2 linked regions of the Homo sapiens genome follow. The protein of the gene in region 1 purifies or fractionates together with the protein of each later gene. This does not show direct contact. Each region holds a gene or a part of one and is shown in the gene's direction. Other genes may lie near its edges.

Region 1 (7,700 bases):
AGATCGGCAACTCGGAGATAGCTACTAAATTATAAAAAGATAAGATATGCCACCCGATCCATGTTTTTAGTTCTGCTATTTGACTAAAGGATTCCTTGTTTGAGAGGATTATTATTCTCCCTTTAACATGAAAAAGGTAGGGATGTTTCCCAAATAGCCTTAAATTTAGCTGAAGCTTTTACTTAAACTATATTTTTAGCCATATACCCTTCTGTGGATTGATTACAAAATTTTACTTCTCTTTTTTCTTTTCTAGACAGTCTCACTTTTTCACCCAGGCTGAGTGCAGTGGCACAATCTTGGCTCACTGCAACCTCCGTTTCCCGGGTTCAAGTGATTCTCATGCCTCAGCCTCCCAGGTAACTGGGATTACAGGCATGCACCACCACGCCTGGCTAATTTTTATATTTTTAGTAGAGACAGGGTTTAGCCATGTTGGCCAGGCGGTCTTGAACTCCTAACCTCAGGTGATCCACCTGCCTCAGCCTCAAAAAGTTCTGGGATTACAGGCATGAGCCACCGCACCCACCCCAAAATTTTACTTTTCATTTATACTAAGTTCATTAAATTTAAGTGGGAACATCTTGTTCTACTATATAAACATTTGATTAATAGGATATATTTTTCTGTTTTCCCCCTTCTGATTTTATTAAAGACTTAGAAATTAAACATTATAGAAAAGTTTATAATGAAAACCAACAATTCCTTTCCTTATTACTACCTAACTGCATCCCAGTTTTTAGAAAAAAACAATATATATATTATTTGTTTGGTTTAGTTTCCCTGGTGGTTATCTCTCATTTTAAAAAATACCCTTATGTCAATATTTTTAACTGTCACAATATAAAATATTGACTCTGCTATGAAGATTTGGTTCTTCTTCTCAAGTTGAGCTCTCCGCTATTTACTTTCATGTTTTTAAATATATACACATTTAAACTTCTCCTTCTTATTCCATCAGCTATAAAGCAGTATCTCCCCCACTTTGTTTGATAAGAATTTTAGGACCTGTTAATCTGTTAATCTGTTAAAGGAAACTAATTAAAAATTTTAGGTATTTTGTATTTAATTTGAATGTGAAAGTTGAAACCAGTCAACAGTGTTTATATTATTATTATGAAAAGTAGCGTTCACTGTTGAGAAAATGTGCTAGTATTAACATTTGCTTTGCTACATGGCCAGAATACCCCAGGACACATCTGTTTTTCTCTTCTTCAGCCCTATAAACACACTGAAGCACTGATTTGAATAAAATAAGCTACAATAATTACATTTTAACTGCTGACTAAAGTGTCCATCATATAATCTTATTTAGATTATTTCTCCCAAAATTTTAATTTAGTTTTGTTTATTCTGTGTCTCCATCTCGCTACTCTTTTTTTTCTGCTGTTTTTAATTTACTATAGAAGAAATCTTGATATATACAAATTTATAAAATTTGTCAAGGATATGTTCTTCATGATCATTTATCAAAATATTAAATTAAGATTTATTTGAGTACTGTGTCCTGAAGGGCTTAAATCTACACAGAGCTTTATTAACTTATACACATACAATGTTATGAAATTCTGATTCACTGTAAAAAGTATTTCTCTTCTCCACTACCTACCTACTCCCATAAACAAATAAACAAATCTATCTGTGACTCACTTTTTTTTACTGTAAATTTATGCTCATTAAACTGGGGACATTGAGACTAGGCTGACAAAGTTGTAGGAGGTGAGCACCATGAATTCAGAAACATGTTTTTTTCAAGAAGATTTGGGTGTATAGTATGAGAACCGATTTATGTTCAACATAGATTATGGTGTAGAAACAAAGTCAAGTAACATTTTAAAGTAAATATGAAACTACAAAGAAAGTTCTCTTACGTTATTGTGGGCCTTTAGAACCCTGGAGCTCTTTCTCTGATACAAAGGAATATTTGGAAAGAATGTGTTAATGGCATGGGAGCAAAACAATGTTTTTTAAGGCAAGTTAAAATATTAACCACTGTTGGCTTGTTTGTTTTTTCACTTATTTACCCTATCCTGGAATTTAAGATGCCATTAATTGTAAAATACACTGTTTTATTAAACAGCTAATTAAACTCTGCTGTCATACTCTGACAATCATTTGATCACACCAGGCTCTCATTGCTTTGAAACTTCCTTCATCTATTCCAAGAGATTTGGCAGTTCCTTCTGCCTTAATTGGTATTGGTTGGTTTGTGATAGGCAGTATTTTGTGTATTTCTTAGTTACAAAACAAAAACAGCTTCATTGTCTTATGGGTGTTTTTCTTTGTTAGGACCCATAAAGCATTTGCTTATTGTTTTGTAAGAAAATATGGAATTGTGGTCATTCATCCAACAATAAATTTTTACTTCACTAATATCAAATATACACCCTGCCCCTTGCCTCTCTGTTTCTTTTCTCTAATTTACAAAGTAAATTTTTGTTCCGATGGCAAATCATAGTATAATCATTTTAAAGATATTTTAAATGGCAATTAACATCAACATGTACAGTGTGCATAATTCAGTTGAAGCTATGACACTATGAACAGCTGTGATCAAGAGATGTTAAAACCGGAAGAAAAAAATCTGCATCTTAGAAATAAAATCTTAAGGTAGAAAGAAATATTCATCTTAGAATCAAAATATGCATCTTTTCTCTCAAAAATTTTCTGTATTCAAGCTCATCAGGCATTATATTGCCTCTTGCCAGACTCTTGAAATTCACATTTCCAATTTTACTCTAGATTCTACCAATTACCCATGATAGAAGTCGGACTCATCAGTAACCCTTAGGGTTGCTTCTGGTTTTTAATGAAATATGTTTCTTAAGCAACAGACTAGAGAAAGAATATTAGCTAGAGAGATGCCAAGACCTAGGTTCTACTCCCTACTCTGCCACCAACTCACATTCAGATTTAGAGATCAATTTTGTCACCGGTTAAATTAAACTGAGTAGATCAGAGATTTTTCAGTCCTAGTTATAATTTAGAATCATCTAAGTAGACTTTTTAAAAAGTGTGTATTTTTAATATTTAAATATAATTAATTTTAATATAATAAGATGTTTTGATGTACGTATGTATAGTGAAATGATCACTGTAGCCAGGCAAACTAACATAACCATCATCTCACATAGTTACCTCTTGTTTTGTGTGCCAAGAGCACCCAAAGTCTAGTCTCTTAGCAAATTTTCAATATACAGTACATATGATTAACTATAGTCCTTGTACTGTATGCTAGATTTCTAGATTTATTCATCCTACATAACTCTGCAACTTTGTACCCTTTAATCTACATCTTTCCATAACCTTCCCCATCCCCATAACCACTATTCTACTCTGTTTCTATGGATTTGAGTAGTTTTTTAAGAATCACCCAGGCAGATTTTTAAAACTGTCAAAGACAGAGTATTACCCTAGACCAATTAAATCAGAAACACTGAGCAAGTAGTATTTCTTGAAAGCTCTTCAGATGGTTCTAATGCTCAGCCATGTGTTGAACAGGAGTAAGATGATTCTTACACTTTACATAGAGATAGTATACCAAAATGGTTAAAGTCAGGCTCTGAAGTCACCAACCTGGGTTTACATTCTGGCTGTGCTACATATTGTCAGCATACTGCCAGCTTTACTGTGGTAGAAAATAAATCTAATGATGATGATAACAATAATAGTAACATACATTTCTTGACTGCCCTGTTTGCATGTTTCAGGCACTGATTCTAAGTGTTTATGTGTACAATTCAAGAAATTATCACAATAGCTTTTTCAGATAAGTACTATAATTCTCATTTTGCAGATGAAGCAACAGAATCATAGATAAAATTAAGTAATTTGGCCAAGTTCTCACAGCTAATAAGTAGAGGAGCCTGGATTTAAATCCATGGACTCTGACTCCGTAAGTCTGTATCAAATATGTAAGTGTCACAAGGGAAAGATAAGGTTCTTAAAACCTCCATCAAGCAGTCAGATGTTCAGGAAATGATAACACTCCTTGGGAGTTGAACTAAATCTTTTGGATACAAAAATCTGATTTTAGGCAGTATCTTAGAATTTTGCAGGTAAAAATGACAGGTCACAGAGAAAGGTTTTAATTTGTACAGTGCTACCATCACATATGTGAAGCCATTTGTGTTTTTTTAATGCTGTTGTAGATAAGGAAGAAAGTGAAGAGTTGTCCAAGGTCACACAGCTCCTAGGTGATCTTCCTGATATCCTTGTTTGTTGTACTTAACAACCTAGGATTTCTTTGAGTCCAGAAGCATTCACTGAGCTGACATTTCATTGATGCCCTGAATCAGATTCAGCTAGAAACCACATGCACAGACAGCCGAAGTGTTTGAAGGAAAATCTGTCAATTAGTTAATAAGGTGGGAACTGAGTTTCAAAGAAAAAATTCTAAATGTTCTAAGCTGTTTGGTGAGCCAGTTTAGAATGCCTTTATACCCTTTTAATCTTTGTGTTGAGAATAAACTTGCCCTTTCTAACAGAAGTCAGCAGTTCATGTTGTCATATATCAGCCATACTGAGAAATCAGGGGTTGGTAGAGTTTTAAAAAGCATTAAAACAGCAACTGTATTATTTTGAAAATAAGCCAAAGGATTAACTTAATCTGTTGCCCAGAAACACAAGTGAAAGAGAAACACAAGTGAAAGACATTTTTTAATCTTTTGCCATATCATATAGCAAACTAGAAGAAAACTGAACTTGGGAGGGAAATAGGCCAGCCACTCAACCTTCCAGCAATTATTAGGAAATTAAACAAGAACTCTTAAAGTAAATGTCCTGCTATTTTCTCATTGAAAGGGGAAAGTCTGTTGCTCTCATGGAGGTTTACATTTTAATGCTCTTTCACTCATTTTAGATATTGCTTGGATGACCGAAAAGCTTTGGAAAGAGATGGAGGATTTTCTGAACTTCAGTCTCGTCTTATTCGTTATGAAACTCAAACTACCTGCACCAGAGAAAGTTTTCCAGTACCTACTGTGTTGAGCCCTCTTCCATCTCCTGTAGTTTCGTCAGATCCTGGAAGTGTCCCTGACGGAGAAGTTTTACAAAATGAACTTCGAACTGAAGTATCCCGATTGAAACGGAGATCTAAAGATCTGAATTGCCTTTATCCCAGAAAAAGGTGATATATTACATGCACATAAATAGTATATTGACAGAAAGTATTTTAGTCTCGAGGATTTTTATTTTATTTTATATTAGTCTTTCAGGTTAATTTCTTCATGGCAAGAAGTTTGTTTTATGAGCTGTTGATAATTTTGCTTATAAGTTATAAAAATAAATGATTTGGGAAAAAAACACAGTTTCTTGCTTTATATGCTAATATACAGTCCATTAGCACAATGGATTGTAAAGTTTTTAAGCCATGGAACAGTGGAGATTTCACCCCATAGATTAAGCTGCTGAGCTGCCCTGTTGAAGAGACTGTTTGGGGATGGGAGTTCTCCCATTAGCTCTTCCTTTCCTTTCCCCTCAGTTTCCTGCCTGCATTGTTCCCTTGAGCAAGAGATTCCATGAGGTACCATTTTTAAAACACCTGTTACATATAAAATATAGCTTTAAACACTGCATAATGATAGAATATATGAAACTTTTCTGGATGCGTTAGTTTGCTAACTAAATGAAATATCCAGATACTTGATCAGAAGTTAGAAGTTTATGTAGTGAACACTAATTTTTATTGAATTTATGTTATCTTTAGAACCTTTGTCAAACTTAGGTTCTTGGCATCTAAAGCAAGGCTTGAATTCTTATTGTATTTAAACCTTGCAAAAAGTATGAACTATATGAAAACATAACTTTCAGATCTTTTTTTGAATAGTTAAGAAAGTTAGAATAAGGTTACCCTGATATGGAAGAACTCAGTCATTTTTATGAGGACTTTATAAATTCATGGTACTTTTTATACCTGATAAAATTAAAAAGCAGCAGTTACATTTGGGGTACTATATTTATAGCCATATTTCTTATTTCTGACCTATGGCTAATAAAAATATATGTGTTCCTAAAAGGAATGTATACTGTGGCTTCTGGGTCAGCAGAATTGAGGGCTATAAGACCCTATCTTGTAAAGGGAAAAATTTGGGCCTTGTCAGGAACAAATGTAAACATTTTAGGAAGATTGAAGTATGAACCAGTTTTATAGTTTATTTGTATTTGTTTTAACACTATGACTTATTTTGCAAGGGAGTTCCATGGGTATAAAAAGATACAGGTTGTGGTGTTTCTGTTCAAATTATCTTAACAGAAAAGTATAAATATTTAACAGATTAGTATTAAATCTATAAATAGCAGCACTCTTGGCATGCATAGCTGATTTATTTGAGAAATTGTAAATTGGAGGGATGGGAGAGAGTATAACAATATTGTTTGTTGCTTTCTCTATTAGCCAAAATCCTAGTTTGCTATTCATTACCTTCTATGTGTTAGTTACTCATCTGAAGAACTAAGGAACAACTTTATAATATGATGTTTATTGCTTACTTAAGGCAGTAATAGCAATAAATTTTGTTTGCTTTTCTTGAATTTATGTTATAATGGATATAGTGGTAACACTATAACATAGTGGTATAGTGTTATATATTATGTAATATATTATGTTATATATTATCTATTATGTAATAACAGTGGTATAATATAGTGGTAACACACTGGTAAGACAGAAAATGAACTTCGATGTTGATTCACTTAATGGATATAGTTGTAATATTTAAGACAGAAAATGAACTTCGATGTTGATTCGCTTAATCTACGTTCTTGATTTTTTTCCCCTGCTATATAGACTTGTGAAATCTGAAAGTTCAGAGTCTCTTCTTTCTCAGACAACTGGTAATAGTAATCACTATCATCATCATGTGACATCCAGAAAGCCACAAACAGAACGGTCCTTACCAGTGACTTGTCCATTGGTTCCAATTCCTAGCTGTGAAACTCCAAAACTTGCTACAAAGACCAGTTCAGGTCAAAAAAGTATGCATGAATCAAAAACATCAAGGCAAATTAAGGAATCAAGATCACAGAAACACACACGGGTAAAGATTTATTTCCCATTTTTCTTAGTTCTACATAGGAAGACTTTTTAAATTTGATTACTTTAAAATATATGTCTAAAAAATTTTATGAATGAAATGAAACGATGTCTAGAATTTACTGGTGTAAGAAGGATGATAGGAAAGTAGGTGGGGATATAATTGAAACAAGATTAGCCACAGATTAATCATACTTGAAGCTGGTTAAAAGATATATCAAGATAGAAATTTGTTATAAAATATTCTGTGCGTGTCAAATATTCTCTACTTTTCTATGCTTGAAATTTCCCATAATAAAAAATAAATATACACTTACATATCCCTGCTGTGTGTAACTTTAACACTCAGATTTCAATTCAGAACTCATGATTTGAGTTCCTTTCTTAAGACACTGTAGTCATTTCCTGCTAACATATTATTCCTGTGACACTTCTGACCATGTAAATGTTAGATCTTTTTTTTCTCAATCATTTTGTCTTAATGAACCTGTCTGTCTTTTAGCACAGCAAAATGAATGTGTAATTCACAGGATTGAACTCTAAAGCTGAAATAATAGGTTTGTGCCTTTTCCAAGAAATATTCGTCATATGTTATGTTCTGTTCAAGATACTGAAAGAAGTAGTTACTGAAACCCTGAAGAAACACAGTATTACCGAGACTCATGAA
Region 2 (7,700 bases), on another chromosome or scaffold:
ACATGCTTGTGGTCCCAGCTACTCCAGAGGCTGAGGTGGGAAGATCACTTGAGCCTGCCTGGGAGGTGGAGGTTGTGGTGAGCCGAGATTGTGCCACTGCACTCCAGCCTGATTGTCAGAGTAAGACCTTGTCTCAAATAAAATGAAATAAAATTAATCACTTATCTCTGTAGTTTCTCAGTCTCTGGACTATTGACATTTTAGACCAGATAATTCTTCGTTGTAGGGCTGTCCTATGTATTGTAGGATGTTTAACAGCATCCCTGGCTCCTACATACTAGATGGCCAGCAGCCACCCCCGCCCCCACCACCATCAGTCATGACAATCCAGACAAGGCCAAATGTTCCCTGCAAGGAAATATTTTCCCCAGTGGACAACAACTGGCCTAAGTAATACAAGGACTTGAGCAAGATATGATTAATCCATTTTATTTTATTTTTTTCTCAGATTTTAAAACTGAGGAAGAGCTGCTATCATATATACGTGAAAATTACCAAAAGACTGTGGCCACAGGAGAAATCATGTTGTATGCATGTGCTCGAAACATGATCTCAACCGTTAAAATGTTCCTAAAATCAAAAGGCACCAAGGAATTAGAAGTAAGAGGGTCCAGATATTGTTGTTTGTCATGGATGTAGTGGTTGGTTGGTTGGTTGGTGGTGGATTTGGTTAGTGTCTTGGAAAATGTCTGTTATGTCATATGTGATTCAAAAATGGTAAGATAAGTAAGGGAGTAAGTACAGTTCCAGATCTCAGAAGGTGGATATGGTGAACTGGTAAGGCAGAAATCAAAGAGATGGGGTGAGCGGGGATAATTACATATAATTCTCTCCTAATGAAAAGCCTTTCCTCATGTGAGCTATATGTTAGCTGCATGATTAAGCCAGTGGTTTTTAACCCTGGCTATACTTTAGAATCACTTACAGCATTTAAAAAATATATATATGCCAACTAACCGTGGTGGCTCACGCCTGTAATACCAGCACTTTGGGAGGCCAGGGTGGGTGGATCACGAGGTCAGGAGTTTGAGACCAGCCTGGCCAACATGGTGAAACCCCGTCTCTACTAAAAATACAAAAATCAGCTGGATGTGGTGGTAGGTGCCTGTAATCCCAGCTACTCGGGAGGCTGAGGCAGGAGAATCGTTTTAACCTGGGAGGTGGAGGTTGCAGTGAGGCAAGATCGTACCATTGCACTTCAGCCTGGGCAACGGAGCGAGACTCCATCTCCAAAGAATATATATATATGCCTTGCTCTCTCCAGATGAACTGAAACAGATCTCTGGGGTTGGCGCTTTTAAAAAGCCCCCTGGATAATCCTTTTGCACTGGGAGTGTTGCAAACCACTGTTTTAGACCGTGTTGTTGTTTTATTCATGTTCAGTGGCCATCACGGAGCTCCTTCTCTAAAGCAAACAGGAGGATTTGTTTATGATACTTAGGTTTCTTAAGCACTGCTTTATGGAACGTTTCTTTTAAGACACTTTATTTAGGGCAGGCTTGTTTTATCCATGCCCACTAGCTCTCAAAATAACTTTTACCATGTTCTTTTTAAAGATATAAAAGAAGAATATTCACGTCACTTTTTCATTCAAATGAAAGAATAGAGAAGTTTATAAGGGAATATATTTCCCTTTAGTCAACTGTGAAAGAAATTAGAAATAATGACAAGTAACACTATTCTCCTATGTAATAATTTTGTATTTTTAGGTGAACTGCCTGAATCAAGTAAAAAGTAGTCTCTTAAAAACTAGTAAAAGTCTTCGACAGAATCTAGGAAAAAAACTGGATAAGGAAGACAAAGTTAGAGAGTAAGTAACTACCATTTTTTAAAAAATCATCACTCTAAAAGCTGTGAGATTAGCTCGTATCAGTTTAAAATAGATTGTTCGTGACATGGTGGCTCATGCCTGTAATCCTAGTACCTTGGGAAGCCAAAGCAGGAGGATTGCTTGCAGCCAGGAATTTGAGGCCATCCTGGGCAATATAGTGAGACCGTGTCTACCAAAAAATTTTTTTTAATTAGGTGAGCATGGTGGTGTACACCTGTAGCCCTAGCTACTTGGGATGCTGAAGCTGGAGGATTGTTTGAGCCCAGGAGCTCAAGACTACTGTGAGCTATGATCCCAGTACTGCACTCTAGCCTGGGCAACAGAGCAAGACCCTGTCTCAGGAAAAAAAAAAAAAAAAAAAAAAAGATTACCAACTGCATGAAGATGCTTTTGTAGCCAATTCTTTTTTATGTTATAATATGCAGCTTGAATCACCTATTTATCTAATAACTACATCAGTTTTTAGAAAAGGCACTGGCTCTCCTCCTTTTTGGTTGTTGTGTCTTATATAAATAGATCTATGCTTACGGAAGGAGCTTTTTGTTTAGTGACATCCAAAGTAGATATGACCAAGTATTTTTTTCTCTCAAGGTGCCAGCTTCAGGTATTTCTTCGTTTGGAGATGTGTCTGCAATGCCCTTCAATAAATGAAAGTACAGATGATATGGAACAAGTAGTGGAGGAGGCAAGTATATAGTTTCGTGCCATTGAAATACGCCCTAGATGCTTTCAGCTTCCCTGCAGAGGGCATCTATATAGTAACGTTCTAAAATCTCCTTCAGGTGACAGATTTGCTGCGCATGGTGTGTTTAACTGAGGATTCAGCGTACCTAGCAGAGTTTCTGGAGGAAATTTTGAGATTGTAAGTTTGATGGTTACTAACTTAACTTTAAAATTGTTTTGTCAAAACCTATGTATGGTGTTGTCTCTGAATTTTGGAGTTGTAAGGACTACTTTTTAGGCTGGGTGAGGGAGGGAATAGAGAGGGTAAGATGGTAACTGTTCCGTATTCGATCAATCTGTTCCACAGGTATATTGACTCTATCCCAAAGACACTTGGAAATCTTTACAACAGCCTAGGGTTTGTGATTCCTCAGAAGCTGGCTGGTGTCCTTCCTACAGATTTTTTCAGTGATGACTCCATGACACAAGAGAACAAATCACCACTTCTTTCTGTGCCTTTTTTGTCAAGTGCTCGTAGATCAGTGTCAGGCAGCCCTGAATCTGATGAACTGCAGGAACTTCGTACCAGATCAGCCAAGAAGAGAAGGTAAGAGGTCAAAGAATCAAAGGAATTATTTGCACTGTTATAGTTCTGATAAAAGATGTGTTTAAACTACAGTCCAGTCATCTTTGTCCATATAATTTGTTGAACTAATAGCTGCCCTTATGTCTGAATCAGAGAAGCCAACTATTAGAGCTCCTAATAGGAGCATCTGACAATCTTTATATTATCTAGGAAATATATAGTCATGTTTTGCTTAACAACAGGGATACATCCTGAGAAATGCATTGTTAGGCAATTTTTGTTGTACTAACATCAGAGTGTGCCTACCAAAACCTAGATAGTATATATTTTTTCATTTATGTATATTTTTTCATATGGAAAAGCTAATGTTCCAGCATTGTTACTGAATAGCAGTCATTTCCCCTACTTGATCTGTAATGCCAATATCAAGTGTCATTTATTAGGTTTCTATATAGGCTCCATTATAACCTATGGGACCATTGTCATATATGCAGTTCGTCATTGAAGGAAACATTGCATGACTGTATAGTGTTTATTTCCTATTTCACAAAGTCTTCTTTACTGTCCACATGAGGTCTCCAGAAACTAGGCCTTCTATGAAATAAGCTTAGAGTTTCAGCTTTTTAAATTTCCCTTGATGCTTTTCGTTGTTCATAACTGGTTGAATTTGTTACTTTTGAAAATTCTGGGGTGACTTGTTTTATTATAAACCCAGAACAACCTTAAGATAACTGGCTTTTATTTAAATCATATTTTATTTTACTTAGACTCCAGTTCCATTTGAATTTAACTATATATAACCTCTATCTAGTATGTATTAACTATTTCTATTTTTAAAAGGAAAAATGCATTAATAAGACATAAAAGCATTGCTGAGGTTTCACAGAATCTTCGACAAATTGAAATTCCTAAAGTGTCAAAGAGAGCTACGAAAAAAGTAAGTAAACCTTCCAGCTTGAGATGACACAGTAAATAAGAACAAAAAGGCAGTGTCCCTACTTTTAGGAAAATGAACTTTGGAGGATACAGAAATAATATTAAATATTTTTATGAATGTGTATAAAACTATAATCCAAGGAATAAAGAAATATAAACTTGTCAAGAGATTAACAATTTTACTCAAGAGTGTGATAGTTAGAGGTAATGTGAAGAAAAATGGCAAGTAAAAGTTAGGAATGAATTAATTCAAAATCTTTAATGTAGATAGGAAAACTCATAAAACAATAACTAAAATAAGCAAAGCAGTCACTGGAAGAGAATATACAATTGTAAGTGGACTTTGGTTGCATACCAGAAGGTGCTTTTCAATATGTTATATTTTACTTTAATAACAAATTTAGGCCAGGCACAGCGGCTCACACCTATAATCCCAGCACTTTGGGAGTCAGAGGAGGGAGGATAGTTTGACACCAACAGTCTGAGACCAGCCTGGACAACATAGCGAGACCCTGTCTCTACAAAAAATAAAATTAAGAAAAAATTAGCCAGGCATGGTGGCACATGCCTGTAGGCCCAGCTATTCAGGAGTCTAAGGCAGGGAGATTGCTTGAGCCCAGTAGGTCAAAGCTGCAATGAGCTATGGTCGTGCCACTGCACTCCAGCCTGGGTGACAAAGCAAGACTTCATCTCTTAAGTGAATTAATGAATGAATAAATGAATGAATAACAAGTTTTTTGAAAAAGATGATGACCATCATGGAGCCAGGAGGTGGAGTAGTCGCCCCTTATCTGCAGAAGATATGTTCCAAGACCCCCAGTGGATGCCTGAAACCACAGATAGTACTGAACCCTATATATAGTACTGTTTTTTCCTATGCATGCATAAGTTCAATTTGTAAATTAGGCACAGTAAGAGATTAACAACAATAGTAAAATAGAACAATTATAGCAATATAATATAATAAAAGTTATGTGAATGTGGTCTTCCTCTCAAAATATCTTATTGTACTATATTCACCCATTTTGGGGCCATGGTTGACTATGGGAAACTGAAACCATGGAAAGTGAAATCACAGATAATGGGGTACTATTGTTGTTTTTTTCATGGCAGTTGATATAAGGACTTGAGGTTTTTATTGGTTGAAAAAAAAATAAACCTAGCTGGAATCTGTTTACTAAGTAGAATTAATGTCTCGCTGAGGAAAAAAGGGAGACTAAAAACACAATGAAACTTTTCAACTGCATGAACTATCTGAGAAGAGTTAAAATTCAATAAGAACTATCTTTAGAAGCATTAATTATTATAATAGTGGTTTGTTCTGTTTCTAGATATTTGTAGCAGTCCTTTGGAATTGGAGGTGGGATTTCTTTTAAATGGTTAATGGTGTTCACTTTCTTATACTTTGTGAATAAAATGCATATCTTATATATCTCACAATCCTGATTGAAGATTGGAAAATCCGAAAGTGAATGGCCAAAAGTTGCCAGGCCTTTATTCTCACTAGATTTTACAATGATTTGCAGATCTTTCTAGCACACTTTGAAACTTTGGTTTTAGATTGGACAAGACAGTTTTCTTCTCTAAGATCAGAATTAACGCCTGGGCGCAGTGGTTCATGCCTATAATGCCAGAACTTTGGGAGGCCAAGGCAGGAGGAATCACTTGAGCCCAGGAGTTGGAGACCAGCCTAAGCAACATAGTGAGACCTTGGCTCTACAAAAAATTTAAAAATTAGGTATGGTGGTGCACTCCTGTAGTCCCAGCTACTCGGGAGGCTGAGGTAGGAGGATCGCTTGAGCCTGGGAGTTTGAGGCTGCAATGAACTATGATGAAGCCACTGCACTCCAGCCTGGGTTACAGAGAGAGACTCTGTCAAAAAAAAAAAAAAAAAAAAATTGAGGTCAGGATTTGATTGTGGTTAGTAATGTTTTTTCATGTCAAAGTTGGTACCATAGATAAGTGACAATTGTTTAACTGAAAGGACCAGATGTTACATTTTTAAAAGAATAAATCTCAGTTCTCTGAAGGACCAATATAGTTAACTCGGGAAGCAGTGAACTTACAACTTAAGCGTAGACATATAGTATTAATTACATTAATGTATATTAATTTCTTTTACGTATCTTAACTCCAGAAGATCACAAGGATTAAAAAAAAAATATTTGATCCTGCCTTAATACCTTCAGGACATACTCTCCTAGTTTTTCATTCAATTACATGGATTAACAAGGGTTGACAAACTTTTTCTGTAAAGGGCCAGATAGTAGATGTTTTAGCCTTTGCAGGCCATACGTCTCTGCAACATCTATTCAGTTCTGCTATAGTGGAAAAGCAGCTACAGGCATTATGGAAAGAAACGAGCATGACTATGTTTCAGTAAAAACTTTATTTTCAAAAACAAGAGGTGGCCCAGATTTGGTCTGTACACTGTAGTTTACTGAACCCTGGATAGGAAATTGGATGTATGACTTTTATTTTTATTTTTATTTTTTGAGATGGAGTCTCCCTCTGTCGCCCAGGCTGGAGTGCAGTGGCACGATCTCGACTCACTGCAAGCTCCACCTCCCGGGTTCACGCCATTCTCCTGCCTCAGCCTCCCGAGTAGCTGGCGTGCACCACCACGCCTGGCTACTTTTTGTATTTTTTAGTAAAGATGGAGTTTCACCATGTTAGCCAGGATGGTCTCAATCTCCTGACCTCGTGATCCGCCCACTCGACCTCCCAAAGTGCTAGGATTACAGGCGTGAGCCTCTGCGCCCAGCCGGATGTGTGACATATTTTTACAATTATAGTTTATCTCTTTATAAGAGTTATTAATCAATATAAGTAAGAATGATCACATCTCATGTCTTATCAGCAAGACCTTGGTTATATCACTGAGACCATTTGTTAAGTTTCTGCCCATATGTGGTGGCTTCTTCAATTATTATGATGAATTGAAAAAACAAAAAATCTTTAAAAAAACAGTTTCCTTGTTTTGATGCATCTGGGGTTTAGACTCTTGAATCTTCTATTGTAATAGCAAGTACATAGCAGTCTGATAAAGAAATGTTTCTGAGAGTATAGCCTCCCTCTAATTAATGTATATGGCTTTTCCCTTATTAGGTATAAAAGGTATGCATGATTATCGTTAAAAAGTTAAAACATATAAAGTTAAAAGTTAGGGTGTTCCTTCTCCATCCATTCATCAGAAGTAATCACTGATGATAGTTTGTTGTGTATATTTCCAGGCCCTTTTCTATATGCACCAATAACACCAAAGATTTATGCAGATCCGTTATATACATATATATAAATGATATAACTTAGAATACTTAATATTTTCCTTTTTCCTCCCTATCACAGATCTCTATGTTAGTACAAGTTGAGTATCTCTTACCCAAAATGCTTAGGAGCAGAAGTGTTTCCATTCTTAGATGTTTTTGGATTTTGGAACATTTGCATTACATGTACTTACTGGTTAGCACCCCACATCCAGAAGTCCAAAATGCTCCACTGAGTGTTTCCTTTGAGTGTTGTGTTGGCACTCATGAAGTTTTGGATTTTGGAGCATATTGGATTTTCAGATTAGGGATGCTCAACCATATATAGAGAGGTCTTCCTTCCTTACTCTTGTAATGTCTGCATTGGATGGGTATGTAATTTATTTAACTGTTTCACTCTTTATGGGCATTTATAGTG

The links. The genes of interacting proteins can lie anywhere in the genome.
Region 2: the proteins of MTBP (region 1) and TICRR purify together in Homo sapiens (affinity purification with western blotting; 2 studies listed by BioGRID). This does not show direct contact.

Annotation. Positions count from the first base shown.
Region 1 is NC_000008.11:120,511,064-120,518,763, forward strand, and holds part of MTBP (mdm2-binding protein), read left to right. Parts: intron 1-4,151; coding exon of another isoform or gene 4,152-4,155; exon of another isoform or gene 4,156-4,173; intron 4,174-4,239; exon of another isoform or gene 4,240-4,367; intron 4,368-4,861; coding exon 4,862-5,128; intron 5,129-6,787; coding exon 6,788-7,037; intron 7,038-7,640; coding exon 7,641-7,700. UniProt on the Homo sapiens protein: Inhibits cell migration in vitro and suppresses the invasive behavior of tumor cells. May play a role in MDM2-dependent p53/TP53 homeostasis in unstressed cells. Inhibits autoubiquitination of MDM2, thereby enhancing MDM2 stability.
Region 2 is NC_000015.10:89,598,876-89,606,575, forward strand, and holds part of TICRR (treslin), read left to right. Parts: intron 1-448; coding exon 449-600; intron 601-1,709; coding exon 1,710-1,810; intron 1,811-2,422; coding exon 2,423-2,516; intron 2,517-2,613; coding exon 2,614-2,693; intron 2,694-2,861; coding exon 2,862-3,101; intron 3,102-3,920; coding exon 3,921-4,017; intron 4,018-7,700.